Homo sapiens: one gene and its partners. The protein of the gene in region 1 interacts with the protein of each later gene in a pairwise test. Each region holds a gene or a part of one and is shown on either strand. Other genes may lie near its edges.

Region 1 (4,542 bases):
GTAAATATTCTTAACTAAAGTATTTCTTTGCCTTTGTATCGCACCAGGTACTTCCATGTGGACCACCAATGAGGGGAGCAGCAAGAGCACTGGAATGGGAATGAGGAGAGCTGTAGTCTGACACAGGCTCACTAAACTGCTCTGAGATCCAAAATAAGTCCCTTAACTCCTCTGAGCCTCAGCTTCCTCAACTAAGGATTCTTTTAGCTCTAAAACAATATTTTTATTTATTGTTCCCAGAAAACATCTTCATACATAGGGAATAATCAGTATTATTTATCAGATTTTCTATGTAATTAAAAAAAAAAATGGTCATACTTTTCCTTCCTCCATCCTACATCTTCCATATCCCAGGTGGGCATATTTACAAAGATAAGTAAACAAACTGATAAGGCCCAAATGACAAAACAGATTAGTGATAAGATGGACAGAACTGATAAACTATGGTGTAAATCAACATCAAATTATCACCTTGAGGTGATAAAAGGAGTTTTCTAGACTACAAGGCTGGAAGGAATTATTTATCTTCTACCAGAAGAATAAGATTATGTTTTTACGATTGTTGCATAATAGTAATTATTGTGGTAGTTACCTTCTACATCAATGTTCTGGTCAGGAATCTCCAGTTCAATAATATTCATGCTGGATTCTTTCCAAGAACCACTGAACATACTAGAAAAGTAGCCAGACTTAAACAAAAAAAAAAGTCAACGATTATCAAGTACTTTCTGTGTCTTCCAAATTATTTGCCCATTTCTAATTCTAAGCAACTATTCTATCCATTAACTAAACTCATCCATTCTATTACTTCAACAGAAAAAGAACTGCCAAATATGTCCACAGGAGAAAAGAAATTAAGATAAGGACACTATTAGGTGTATCAAAATATACTTTTGGTTTAGTACTATTTTTGACAAAAAACTAAAATTCTTATATTACTATCTAAATTGAATTCATGTATATTATTTGAACCTGGTTAGCTTTTTACTCAAACTGTTGAATCTTTACTGTACACCTGAATGGCTATAAAGGACCAAACCAGTCCCAAGTCAGCAAAAACAGGATGATCGCCAAAGAAACCAGGGAAAATCCAAAATTTAGTTTAATGAGAAATGTCCAGAATGGACCTGAATTCTTGGAAAGGTACAGAATGAAGTCTTTAGGTATCTGCCAGATAGCACTCCTCATAATTAGAATTACTTTGAAATGGATCAAATATTAACTAATTTATTTAAAAATGTTACTGAGTACTTAGTATGTAGAAGGCACTGTGAATATAGCAATAAACAAAATCGATATTGTTTCTGTCCTCAGGGGGCTTATATTTTAGCATGTGGCTTGAATTATAATACATCTTCCACGAGGGGTAAAGTTTTAACAGAGGTATTCTTACCCTCAAGTTCACAAAACTGCTTTCAGATATTAAAAAGAAACAACATGAATCATACCCTGAAGTTAAAAGCAATATTCTGATATAGTATCTGGGCAACATACTTCAAGCCAAAATAAATTTGTTTCAAAAACACATTTTAAAACATGATTAAAATGTTAGAGAAGGCAATTCATTTTCAAATACTTTTACTGAAAAATTTTATACTATGCTGTCTTACCAGTAATTATTCTCAAATGGTAAAGAGGAAAAATGTAAGTTCCAAAGGATAAAAACTGTTGTTTTATTTCTAGTGCCTCAAACAATACCTAGCTTATAGATTTGATGAAAGAAAATGAATAAAATATTTGGGCCATTAGAGCAACATTGTATTCTATTTTGAAAGCTCCGATTTTTTTTTTTTTTTTTTTTTTTTTTTTGAGACAGAGTCTCGCTCTGTTGCCCAGGCTGGAATGCAGTGGTACGATCTCAGCTCACTGCAACCTCCATCTCCCAGGTTCAAGCAATTCTCCTGCCTCAGCCTCCTGAGTAGCTGGGATTACAGGTGCCCAACACCACGTCAGCTATGAAAGTTCTGAATTTTTAAAGTGGGGTGGCAGGTAGTAATATTTTCAGTACAGAAATCTACTTAGTCTATATACTTTTTGGTGTTGTCTTTACCTGCATTTTTCAGGAGAGAACTTTCTATTCACACTCAATGTGAACTACAAAGCAACATTTCAGATGAGTTTATCCAATTTAAATAACCATAAGCAAAATAAACACTACAATCTTAACTTTAATGTTAAATATTTTTTCCCCAACTTTTCCCCTTTTATCAACAGAAGGCACCGAAAAAAGCATTTTATGAAGTAATGACAAATACGTAGTATTAGGCTAGTCTGATACTGAAATATCAAAATCTCTTTCTAGACCAAACTTAGTTTTCACTAACAATGTTTGCCATTTTTCTTACAGACTGATCAAATGAGAGGATTTAACCACTATGGTGTTCATGCAAAAGATTACTGTGAAGTGCAATGAGGAAGAACATGACTTAAGAGTTTCAGTGACTACCCTGTTACTCAAATAGAAAAAATACTTACTTGACATAAATATATTTTGTGTAAGCTCCATTCTTCTCCTAGAGCACAAATCTTAATGTCACTGTTTTCACCATTCAAAAATAATGTTTGATAAATATATTTAGATGTACTCTTTAATTTTTTCCTGTTAAAAGAAATGAAAAAGTCACATATTTATATAAAACTGAATGTTTTACTGATTTTGCATATATTTCTAAATACTCCTTTTATTCAATTTCTATTAAATAGAGTCAACTTACCTATTGTGTAAAAGGATAGGGAGATAGTATATATTCAAATTTTCTTGTGTCTAGAAGAGTACATAAGAAACTAATAATAGTGGTTATCTCTGGGGTCCTCTATGCACGGGAGAGATAGTGGAGAAAGGGGGGCAGCATGGGAGGCAGACTTTTCACTACACATGTTTTAGCAATTTTGGACTAATTTAATTACCCATTCAATAGATTAAGAAGTTAGCATGTTGATTTTTTGCTTATTTCCTTATTTAGAAACCAGCACTATGAAGGAGCTCAAATAGCGCAATAATCTGCAAGTAGGAAATGGAGAACAAGAGTAAACATTTCACCTACCCAAGTAATTTTAAAATAATTTACATTTAATCTTATTTTGGTACCAACCTATTCTTAAACTACTTAAAATGTTTTCCAGCCACTGGACAAACGGTTTGCAACCTTAGATCAAAGGTTTTCTTTTCTTTTCCTATTTGTTTTTTAAAATTATTTATTTATTTATTTTAGATGAAAGGTTTTTAAAACTGCTCAAAGGAGAAGTCTTAGGGGCCACCAAGGAGAGCTAAGGAGTGAACTGTGAGCATCCCATCTAACTTCAACCAGAGCAGCATCACCTATTCTATCTGTAAACATACTGGATTTCTGCACAGATTTAATTTAAAGGAAGACTTGACTAAAAAAATAAAGTTTGAAAATCATTGCTCAAAATGATCCAGTAACTAAGAAAAGGCCTTAGGCAGAGGCTGATCAATATCTTAAATTCCTGACCAATTCTGAAAGCTTTCCTAGCACATAAAACCTTCAATCTCTTTTTAAAAATGAAGTAATTGTTTCAGATGACATCCTGAATTGGCGAATTTAACACCTGTGTACTTAACACCTCTTCCTAGCCGACAATAAAAACAGCACATGTCTTAGTGGTAACAGACTTGGGTTTGAGTCCCAGCTGCTCAGTTATCACAGCTGTAAAAAGAGGACATTAATAGTATCCACTTCACTCGTTATGATGCGAAATCAAGAGACAATGTAGTTTCCAGTTCCTGACGGCAGAATGTACACATGTTGGCTTCCCATCCCTCCCCAAATTACATTAAAGATTAAGAGTACAAAAAAGGAATAAGTCCACACCAGGAAAAGGTGAGGGTAGGCTCATCACTTGATGAGAGATTTATACAGATCTGAAAGTTAGAAAACAAATTCAAATGAAAAAGAACAGTGACAGCCACAGCCAAAAAATACATTATGGAGGACTAGGATGGAGGCTAAGCTTATCTGCCCATCAGAACCCTTGGGAGAAAAGAAGGATGAGGTCTCAGGGAAACAAAGGCAGAAGTAAGAAGAGGGGCAGAAAATGGGGAAACTAGTGCCTTCTCCACTCTATGAACACAGAGTATAGATAAGGAGAGTACAGATACTGAGGCAAAAAGATTCCAAGGTTTTTCTAGAAATAGCACAAAGCTAATGGAAGATCTAAGGCTGTAGTGTAGCTGCTGGTGCCCAGACAAAGCAATCCTCATTCTGAAATTTAAAGAATCTGTGGCCTGTTCACTCCCAATCCATTCACCCTAAGTCATGGTTCCCAAACCGTGTGTGAAATTCACCAGTTCAGGATACCATCTGAACTTAGAGCACCACAGCCAACTCAGAGAGGCATGTGGAGTATTTTAAATTCGAAGGAAACACAGTAACATCTTTCAGATACCATGCAATCTGCTATCATTAGGTTGTTTGGCCCTAACTATGAGGTATTTCTTTTGGACCAGGGGTGAAAATTACTAAAATATGAAATGTGCTGTGATCCATGAAAGCTTGGGAACCTCTGCTCTACAAAGCATGC
Region 2 (3,099 bases), on another chromosome or scaffold:
ATCTGCCTACCTTGGCCTCCCAAAGTGCTGGGATTACAGGCATGAGCCACCTTGCCAGGCTGCTCTTGCCATTTTCTATTGGTCCTTAACCTTTACTGGGTCATGATACTTTTTTTTTTTTTTTTTTTTTTTTGAGACAGAGTCTCACTCTGTTGCCCAGGCTGGAGTACAGTGGCATGATCTCGGCTCACTGCAACCTCTGCCTCCCAGGTTCAAGTGATTCTCCTGCCTCAGCCTCCTAAGTAGCTGGGACTACAGGTGCTTCTACCACACCCGGCTAATTTTGTGTATTTTTAGTAGAGGTGGGGCTTCACCGTTTTAGCCAGGATGGTCTCGATCTCCTGACCTCATGATCCACCTGCCTTGGCCTCCCAAAGTGCTGGGATTACAGGCGTGAGTCACTGCGCCTGGTCGGGTCATGATACTTTTTAGAATATGATGTGAGATATGGTACCTTTTCCAAGAAATGTACTCAGATACATGTACACAAACTTTATCATAACATTTCAGGGGTTATTGACTCATAAAACCTATTCATAGACCCTCTAGTTTCAAAATCTCAATCTAGGCCAAGCGTGGTGGCTCACGCCTGTAATCCCAGCACTTTGGGAGGCCGAGGCAGGTGGATCATGACGTCAGGAGATTGAGATCATCCTGGCTAACATGGTGAAACCCTGTCTCTACTGAAACATACAAAAAATTAGGCAGGCGTGGTGGCGGGCACCTGTAGTCCCAGCTACTCAGGAGGCTGAGGCAGGAGAATGGTGTGAACCTGGGAGGCAGAGCTTTCAGCGTGCTGAGATAGCGCCACTGCACTCCAGCCTGGGCGACAGAGCAAGACTCCAGTCAGAAAAAAACAAAAACAAAAACAAAAAAACAAAAAAAACCCCCTTAATCTAGAGGCCACTGTAGGGTGAAAATAAGTTGTAAGAACTCAAAATTAATTCCAGGTTTGAAGAAAAAGTTAGTGGGTTTTTTTTAACACTGATTTGAAAGCAAGTCACTTTGGAGACAAAATTACTACTTTCAGGAATCATTTTTATTGATGTCTTTAATTTCACAAACCAAATTATATAAAATTAAGTAGTACACATTTCAAACATAATAATTGTGCTCTGTACAATTCAAGGCACACTTGGATTTTTTGTTGGTTTTTTGTTTGCTTTTTAACAACGGAAAACTTATACTCCATTCAAGATTTTTCCATCAGAACTTTAATCATTTTATTTGGGTTCACAGGTGAAAATATTGTGAAAGTTCATTTACACCACAATGAAGGATAACATCTTCAGCCCCATTTATTTACTAACAACTTTATTGAGATATAATTCACATACCATATAATTCACCCACTTAAAATATACAACTCAATGGTTTTTAATATATTGTTATGTGACCATTACCACAATAAGTTTAGACCATTTTCATGAACCATAAAGAAATCCTGTACCCATTAGATGAATCCTGTACTCCCCATTCATCACCCCCAATTCTAGCCTTAGGCAACCACTAATGTACGGAAAGTATTTTTTGTAGAGACAGGGTTTTGCTATGTTGCCCAGGCTGGTCTCAAATTTCTGGCCTCAAACAATCCTCCTGCCTCAGCCTCCCAAAGTGCTGGGATTACAGGTGTGAGCCACTGTGCCTGGCCCTTTATTTCTTTTTATGGCTGAATAATATAGTCCATTGTATGGATATACCAGATTTGGTTTATCTATTCATTAGTTCATAGACATTTGGGTTGTATTCAGCTTTTGGCCATTATGAATAATTCTGCTATAAATATTTGTGTACAAGTTTTTGTATTGACCAGCCCCTTAATTTTTAACTACACAAGGCAAAAAGTAAAAAGAGAAGAACTCTTACAACAAAATCATACAAAATATGTTTTGCAACAATTTTAGATTTTTCAAGATTCAACCATTTCCATATGTAACATCACAGAGGCTTGTCATGACAGGAAAACTGGTGTCATTACTCTATCACAGAATTGGGAAATCCTAGAAGGTTAGATGTTCTCTAAGACCCTTCTTACACTAAGTTAACGACTTACTACTTTCTATTATTTCTCCATAAACAGAAGAGGAAAGACCAGAAGAGGAAAGGCTTGCCACACTAACCTAAGTTCCCTGTGCTGGTTTGAAGTACTCAGTTCCCTTACCAATTTCCAACTGTCTTTTTCCTACAACTTTAATGTTTGTTGAGTGTATGTATGATTCATAAGATTTCTGATCAATACTATGTGTGTGACATTGAAAGGAGTCAAAATGAATGTATGACTTAGCTGCATTTATCATTTATTAATTGATGACACATTTATCCAATGATAAAAGCATTTGAGAATCTCAACTTATGCCTGAGCCTCTTTCATTAGCTATTATGGTATTATATTCACACAAGTTCATGCATTGAATTTATCTGATAAGGACAGATTCAGAGGCATAGGAAGCACATTCCTAAAGATTTGACCATTAGAGTCGTTACACAGAAGATTCTAATGATTATTTATTTTGCTTTGTATTTCAGAACAATCTTACTTTGGATTTTTGATTTAATTTCACTGAAATTCAGTCAGCATTACCTGATGCTAGCATGTGAGGCATAATCTGGAAGACTGAATCACAATTTACTGCTAGGGGAGCCTGCCAAGCTTTGCCATTCTTTCAGGGGAGGGTTTCCCTGAGAAGCCAGTTTTTTTAGATAGTCACTTGGCTCCAGTTGGGGAATATCAGGGTTCTGCCTGTAATATTTCTGCAATTTCTCTAGAACTGTGGGCAACCCAACTGTGGAAGCATAGAACATGGGCCCGCCCTTGTGCCTTGGCCATCCATATCCATGTAAATAGACAACATCAATGTGCTCTGGGCTAGCAGCTATCCCTTCTCCCAAGATACGGAATGCTTCATTGATAAGTGAATATAAGCAGCGTTCAAGGATCTCATCCTGGCTAATGGTACGTGGTTCAATGTGATGGGTTTTTCTATACCGTGATAGGAATTTGGAAAGCCAGGGATCAGGTTTGTGAATCCTACCCAATGGCTTGTCATATTGATACCAACCCTTACCTGTCTTCTGGCCAAATCGTCCTAATTCACAGAG
Region 3 (4,136 bases), on another chromosome or scaffold:
AAACTAAAGCAATTAAGATGATTCTTACATTTTCAGATGGTTAAATTTTAAATGGTTATGCAAATACCTACATGATAGCTTAAATTTTACCTAAAATATTTACTATCTGGCCCTTTAAGAAAAAGTCAGCCAGCCAACTCCTGTGTCAAAGCAGTGAAATTCTATTTTGCTAGTTTCTGGTGGTATTAATGTTTCGGAGTCAGTACAAGTTTCAGATGACTTATTTAGAAACTTTTTTAAATGTCTTTTGAGTGTCATCTGAAAAATGTATATTCTTACTTATTATCTGTGTTTCCACGAGATTTCTTGTAATTTGCATAATCCTCAAGAATGGAATCCACATTCTTCTTGGCAGGAAGATAAAAGAGCTATGAAGACAAAAATATGCTTAAATATAAGCACTCTCTTTTTTAAAGAAAAATCATACCAGGCAAGTTTTTATACAAAGATCAGGTAACAGTAACAGTATTTCAAATTAGGAAAGATACTATTCAGCACTTAAAACATGGATAATGTGGCTGAGAAACTACAGACAGTTCCCAACTTACAATGGTTTGGACTTAATTTTCCAACTCTCTGCTGGGTTTATTGCGATGTAACCCCATTCTAAGTTATGGAGCATCTATATATTTAAACAGCCAAATGAGACTCTACTAGACAGAACAGCACAGCTTTTAAAAATGTCAATCTGTCACACACACATAACAGACACGAATGTGCCTTTGTGGTACTACCAAGTCATCATTTACTGTTATGCATACTATTTGCTAGATCTAGTCTAAAGCATTAAAATAATTATCTTTTCGTCCTCTCATCAGCATTGTCAAATACAAACTATTATTCCATTAAATGCAAAAACAGAAGCACAAAAAGGCTAAGAAACTTGTCCAAACTCACAAATAATAAGTGATACAGCCATGCTTGAATCTTCGCAGTTTAGCTGTAACTGCATAACCCTCCAAAGGATTCAAATCAGAATTCAAACTATATCCACATACTGTATATGACTGATAGGTCTCTTAAGTCTCATAATCCTCAAGCAGTCCCTAATCATCTCCCCCAACTATCCCTAACCCTACCTATGCCATTTGTTCAAATAGCTTCATTTGTCCTATAAAATTCTCAATTATAGAGTTCAACGATTGACAAACATGTCACTCCATTAAACATCCTATTTCCTGCAAACTAACAATAGATCCAGGCGCTTAGTAAGATTCAGGTTCTTTTCAGGGTCATGAATACCTTGCAGGTGGTGGTGTGTGCTTTCTATGGCCTACCATTAGCAATGACAGTAAGACATATGCTTCTTCACCTTTATGAATTTTCAGAACGAGTTCCTGCCCTAGCAATCTCCAAAAATGAGTTATTTCCACCTTTATCATTATAACCTCATAAAATTTATATGTGAACTTTTATTCTTCTAACTTACTCTTTCTGGTAGTAGTTCTAAAGTGTTCAGCCTCTAAATTAAAATATTATTTTATCAGTCATACCTTAATAATTCAAGTCAATATAACATTTTCCTTTAAAAACTTTTTTTGCTAGCAAGAATGTATCATATAGCTTAACAATCTGGGTAGCTTTTCAAGTTACCTGTTTTTGCCTGGTAATTAAGTCCCAGTCATCAACAAGCCACGGTTTTAGCTCTTCAGGAATCTTTACTTTAACTTCAACTCTGTTCATGAATGTTTCCTCCTAAACAGAAACAGGAGGAGTATTAAAAACCTAACCTTTCTTGCTAAATACCAAACATGGAGGGGAGCTGACTTTTAGAGGCACTAGGGATAAATCTTAAAGTAGCCAAGCATACAGCTGTACTGTCATTTTTTAAAATCATTAATAAAAACGACCATACGCGGTTCGCTGTTGGGAGAAAAGAATCTGACCTGAACTATAGTCTATTTAGTGCATTTTCTTGTAAAGGTAAAAATTCTTCAGTAAGGTTCCTCTTGTTCAGGAAATGAAACACCCTGACTTGATACATTTTAACTTAGTATTTTCTTATTTACCATGGATATCAAAACTATTCCAAACACAACCATCTTAAAGGTACATCTTTAACTCCTAAAAATAAATACGTAACACCAAAGAAATAGTCTTGTAGGTGAACATGAAGCTTACACAACAAATGATCAATTGGGTAGGTAAATCTGGAGCTACAGGTGAAATAAAGATATACAGAAATTTATCCTTTACCCCCAAAAGAGAAAATTTTTAATTTCAGGTATTAACCATGTAAGCAAATCTTGTAGATAATCAAAGCTCCCATGGTTATGTCATGTAACTGAGACTAAAAATCCTAACATGCTATTCATAAACACAAGAAAAACTCACATTTTCAACAGTAGGATCTACCCGGGCCCTTTTCTTCCGAGGAGGCTGAGGGGTCTCACTGGTACTGCCACCATCTCCATTTCCAGGTGCTGTAAATGTTGGCGGGGAGGGGTCTCATTTAGCTAATTTAACAAACTCTATAAGGAAAATAGTCTCTTGACACATTAACCCTTTTCATTATTTCTCCATTACACAGCTGTTACCTCAATCTAAGTTAAAGAATCATATTCCTACCAAAAATACAACTTTCATGAAGAGCTCTACCGAACATTTAGTATAGACAACATTTAGTATCACCATCTTCCATTTATTTATAAATGTTATCTTCTCAGTGGGAGACATTAAGACTAAAGCAGATGAAAATAAATGCTCACAAGTTTCTCCTTGGCAAAAAGAGGTCTCTACCACCATGTACCTATTTTATAACACTGCTGTGAGACTCCTATTTGAGATAATCAATAAACATAAGCTTACTCCAAAATTTCATAGCTTTCAAAATAAAAACGTCAATGTCATAGAGGTAACATAAATTAACGTTAAGAAAGTTAATATTCTTACTTTTCTGTTTGTTCTTTTTCGTTTTCCTAAAAGGAGAGAAAAAAAAGAAAAATAATTATTTCCAGTAAAACTGCCTCTGTTTCAACTCCCTTTATCAGGGTTAAGTTCACAGAGAAATACTAACTTGGATAAAGGATCAGGTGGTAAATATGTGTCCTACTCAGACACAAGGATTTTTATTGATAGTTGGTTAAATTCCCATCTCTCTCCACATAATAGAAAAAAATAAACCAAGCCAGGCGCAGTGGCACATGCCTGTAATCCCAGCATTTTGGGAGGTGAAGAGGGGGTGGATCTCTAGAGCTCAAAATTCCAGACCAGCCTGGGCAACATGGCAAATCCTGTTCTCTATAAAAAATACAAAAATTAACTGGGCATACTGGCAAACGCCTATAGTCCCAGCTACTTGGGAAGCTGAGGTGAGAGGATTGCTTGAGCCCAGGAGGCCAAGGCTGCAGTGAGCCTTGATTGCACCACTGCACTCCAGTCTTGGTGACAGAGACCCTGTCTCAAAGACAAAAAAAAAAGAAAAGCAAACCAAGAACACTTTAGTAAACAACTTCGTTCTTCCAGGGTTATATTAATATATGTTATAGTATATACTACATTATTAGGCCCACCAAAAAAAAAAGGTGTCAAAGGTTAAAATTTTTTTCCAATTATTTTTGTTCCCCAAAATATTTTTAGATTTGTGTAATTTTTTTGTTTTAAGTCTCCTCATCTTGATTATCATCTCTAACAGCAACTTACCTCACGTCACTTATATACTGTCAAATGGTAAATTGCTAATTTTGCTTTATTTATTTATTTTGAGATGGAGTCTTGCTCTGTCTGTTGGGTGATCTCGGCTCACTGCAACCTCCTCCTCCCGGGTTCAAGCGATTCTCCTGCCTCAGCCTTCCAAGTAGCTGGGACCATAGGCACCCACCACCACTCCCAGCTCATTTTTGTATTTTAAGAGACGGGATTTCACCATGTTGGCCAGGCTGGTCTCAAACTCCTGACCTCAAGTGATTCGCATACCTCGGCCTTCCAAAATGCTATTACAGGCGTGTGCCACCATGCCTGGCCTAATTTTGCTTTTTTACATTATTATTTCTAGACCACAAAGGAAACAGTTTATAGAGCCCATGATTATGGATTACTTTCGATGGAAAGATACTATAACACCTGGATTTTTTACTTTTCTGTAGCTTTAAATAATACTTATAAATGTTATTAATTAAATATATTCATTTAATTTA
Region 4 (3,421 bases), on another chromosome or scaffold:
CTTCTTTTTTTTTTTTTTTTTTTTTTGAGACGGAGTCTCGCTCTGTCGCCCAGGCTGGAGTGCAGTGGCACGATCTCGGCTCATTGCAAGCTCCGCTTCTCGAGTTCACGCCATTCTCCTGCCTCAGCCTCCTGAGTAGCTGGGACTACAGGCGCCCACCACCACGCCCGGCTAATTTTTTTTGTATTTTTAGTAGAGACAGGGTTTCACCGTGTTAGCCAGAATGGTCTCGATCTCCTGACCTTGTGATCCACCCGCCTCGATCTCCCAAAGTGCTGGGATTACAGGCATGAGTCACCGTGCCCGGCCTCCTCATCCCTTCTTATCACACCTGCTATTATAGTGCCTTTCCTACAGAGAGGTCTTTAAAAATATTTGAAAATAAATGCGTGCTAGAAGAAGGGATGGAGAAGGCACACACTAAGATGCTTTAGGAGAAAGCATTGACAGCATTCTTGGAGAAAAAATTTTAACTTGTCTGAGAGGGTGGTTGAAACTGGAACTCCAGAGATAGATGCTGGAAGACCCTGGGAACTGCAAGGAAGCAAATAATGACATCCAGGCAAGGCCACTAACCCCTGAGCTACTTAAATATAATGGTTCCTTTCAGACTGATACCAGGAACCTCCTTAAGCATATAAGCATATATTTTTTAATTCTCTATAATCTGTTTCTTTTTGGATGACTATGAAGTAGATTGGGTAGACTGAAGCTCACTGTATTCTTGGCTGACGGTATCCCACTGTGTTTCCTTCACTGGTTTCTCGTCATGTCTCCTTTAGTATGATTTAGTAAATGGCTGTTTACTATTCTTATGATTTCAACTATTCATTGTCTACAGATGACTCAAGTCTAGAACCCTGGCCATTCAAATACTCAATAGTTATCTTTCTATATATATGAACAGGCATTGATCCTATCTCCATCTTTCTGTCTACCTACCTAGTCTTCCCAAACTAGATATTTCTCTAAATTGTCTTATATGGTTCATTTTTCACTTCTTTGTCCCTCAATTTCATTTCATTTCTTTTTCTTTTCTTTTCTTTTCTTTTTTTTTTTTTTTGGTGGTGGGGCGGCAGGGACAGGGTTTCACTGCAGCCTCAACCTCCTAGGCTCAGGTGATCCTCCCACCTCAGCCTCCCTAGTAGCTGGGACTTCAGGCATGTGCCACCATGTCTGGCTAATTCTTTAATTTTTTGTAGAGATTGGGGTAATACCTATCTCATAGAATTAATAGAGTTCATTGTGAAGATTTCATAAGAGAACAGTGCCAAGTGCTTAACACAGTGTGTGGCACATAGTTAGGACTCAGTAACTATTTACTCAATAAATGAACCATATTCCAGGTTACCCAAACTCAAAATATTGGAGTAATTTTTTGCTTGCCTCTCTTATATTCAGTGAGCCCTACTGGTTTTTAGAATTGTAGAATTTTAGGAATCTCTGTCTTTACTGGATTTTTTGTTTGTTTTGGGCTTTTTTGTTTGTTTGTTTGAGATAGGGTCTCACTCCGTCACCGACGCTGGAGTGCAGTGGTGTGATCACAGCTCACTGCAACCTCTACCTCCTGGGCTCAAGCAATCCTCCCACCTCAGCCTCCTGAGTAGCTGGGACTACAGGCATGTGCCACCATGCCCAACTAATTTATTTTATTTTGTAGAGATAGGGTCTCACTATGTTGCCCAGGCTGGTCTCAAACCCCTGGACTCAAGCAATCCTCCTGCCTTGGCCTCCCTAAATGCTAGGATTATAGGCGTGAGCTATCATACCCAGCCTGTGTTGTTTTTTAACAATATATAATAAAAGCCAACATTTATTCAGCACTGAAGTATTTTATACACATTAGCTCACTTAATTTTTACAACAAACCTGTGTGGGAAGTACTGTTATAATTAATCGTCATTTTCAGATAAGAAAATAGCAGCTGAAAAAGTAAAAATAATTTCCTCAAAGACAGCCAGGGCTTAAATCAGGCCTTTCTGATGTAGACCATGCTCTTCACTACCACAGAGTTCCATGCTACTTTCTCTCCCTCTCCCTCCTCTCCTGTCCCTGCTACACACACACACACACACACACACACACACACATGCACACTCACTCACACACACTAGGAGGAACAAATGAGATCATTCACATGAAAGCACTTATGTTTCTGAAATTTAAGGGACTGTGGTTTTTATCTAGGTTGACCTCTCAAGCTAAAAACTGGGAACCAGAATAATGGACTGAAACTTGGGTTTCACTTCCAGACCAGTGTTGATCCTCTGAATTGATGAAACTGTATAGATTTCCCTCTTGATTGCCCCTGCTAACATGGATTTCCTTTCACTCAATTCCTAATGCAAATATTGCTGACCACTGTTTAGATGTTTACATGCTGCATTACATTGATATTTTACTATTTGGTGTTTGTTCTAACTTGTCTCCAATCAATCAATTTCATGTGGTTTATATAAACTCTTTGGTGGCTGTGATGGTTAGTTTTAGGTGCCAACTTGCCTGGATTAAGGGATACAGAGATAGGTAGTAAAGCGTTATTCCTAAGCATGTCTGTGCGGAAGTTTCCAGAAGAGACTGGCATTTGAATCAGTAGCTGAGTAAGGAAGATCCCCCTCACCAATATGGGTGGGCACCATCCAATCTGTTGAGGGCCTGGATAGAACAAAAAGACAAAGGAAAGATGGATTCAGTCTCTCTCCTGGGACAGCCATCTTCTCTTGCCCTCAGATAGCAAAACTCCAGGTTCTTGGCCTTCAAACTCCAGGACTTAACCAGCGGCCCCTCAGGTTCTTAGGTCCTCAGCCTCAGACTGAGTTACACCATCATCTCCTCTGGTTCTCAAGCCTTTAGACTCAAACTGAAACACATAATTGGCTTCACTGGTTCTTCAGCTTACAGACAGCAATTGTGGGACTTCCTAGCCTCCATAATTTATTTCCATAATAAATCCCCTCCTGTTTATCTACCTATCCATCCTTCCATCCCATTGATTCGGTTTCTCTGGAAGACCCTAATATAATACATAAATTAAATATTTATTTTACTTTACTTTCAGGACCTAGCACCGTGCCAGGCCCCTAGAAGACCCAGTAAAGATCTGTTGAATAAACTGTAAGAATGAACACACCACTACAAGTGCCAGGTCCTGGTCCTTTCAAACAACGTGGAGAAAACCCAGTTCCAGATTTAGGAATCAATACCATATGTCTGGCAAAGACTCTTTGCTCTTGCAAGTGCCTTCTTCTGTTCAGGCTTTTAGCGCCCCTGGACTACAACAGAACTTTACTTTCTGGTATTCTTAGTCTCCCTAACCTCTGCACTTCATATTATGTAGGCAGATAAAAACTCTGGTTACATATATTGCTGTGTGATGACCAAAAAAAATTGTGGCTTAAAACTTTAATCATTTTATTAGCTC

The links.
Region 2: the proteins of GMCL1 (region 1) and EHHADH interact in binary tests that used the Homo sapiens proteins (3 or more experiments, as listed by UniProt).
Region 3: the proteins of GMCL1 (region 1) and MORF4L1 interact in binary tests that used the Homo sapiens proteins (3 or more experiments, as listed by UniProt).
Region 4: the proteins of GMCL1 (region 1) and HYKK interact in a two-hybrid assay, tested with the Homo sapiens proteins (2 studies listed by BioGRID).

What each region holds. Positions count from the first base shown.
Region 1 is NC_000002.12:69,835,604-69,840,145, reverse strand, and holds part of GMCL1 (germ cell-less protein-like 1), read right to left. Parts: intron 2,600-4,542; coding exon 2,476-2,599; intron 690-2,475; coding exon 593-689; intron 1-592. UniProt on the Homo sapiens protein: Possible function in spermatogenesis. Enhances the degradation of MDM2 and increases the amount of p53 probably by modulating the nucleocytoplasmic transport.
Region 2 is NC_000003.12:185,189,607-185,192,705, forward strand, and holds the end of EHHADH (peroxisomal bifunctional enzyme), read right to left. Parts: coding exon 2,620-3,099; 3' UTR 1,018-2,619; downstream 1-1,017. UniProt on the Homo sapiens protein: Peroxisomal trifunctional enzyme possessing 2-enoyl-CoA hydratase, 3-hydroxyacyl-CoA dehydrogenase, and delta 3, delta 2-enoyl-CoA isomerase activities. Catalyzes two of the four reactions of the long chain fatty acids peroxisomal beta-oxidation pathway.
Region 3 is NC_000015.10:78,889,771-78,893,906, reverse strand, and holds part of MORF4L1 (mortality factor 4-like protein 1), read right to left. Parts: intron 2,919-4,136; coding exon 2,893-2,918; intron 2,424-2,892; coding exon 2,335-2,423; intron 1,696-2,334; coding exon 1,594-1,695; intron 369-1,593; coding exon 280-368; intron 1-279. UniProt on the Homo sapiens protein: Component of the NuA4 histone acetyltransferase (HAT) complex which is involved in transcriptional activation of select genes principally by acetylation of nucleosomal histones H4 and H2A.
Region 4 is NC_000015.10:78,534,242-78,537,662, forward strand, and holds the end of HYKK (hydroxylysine kinase), read left to right. Parts: 3' UTR 1-2,404; downstream 2,405-3,421.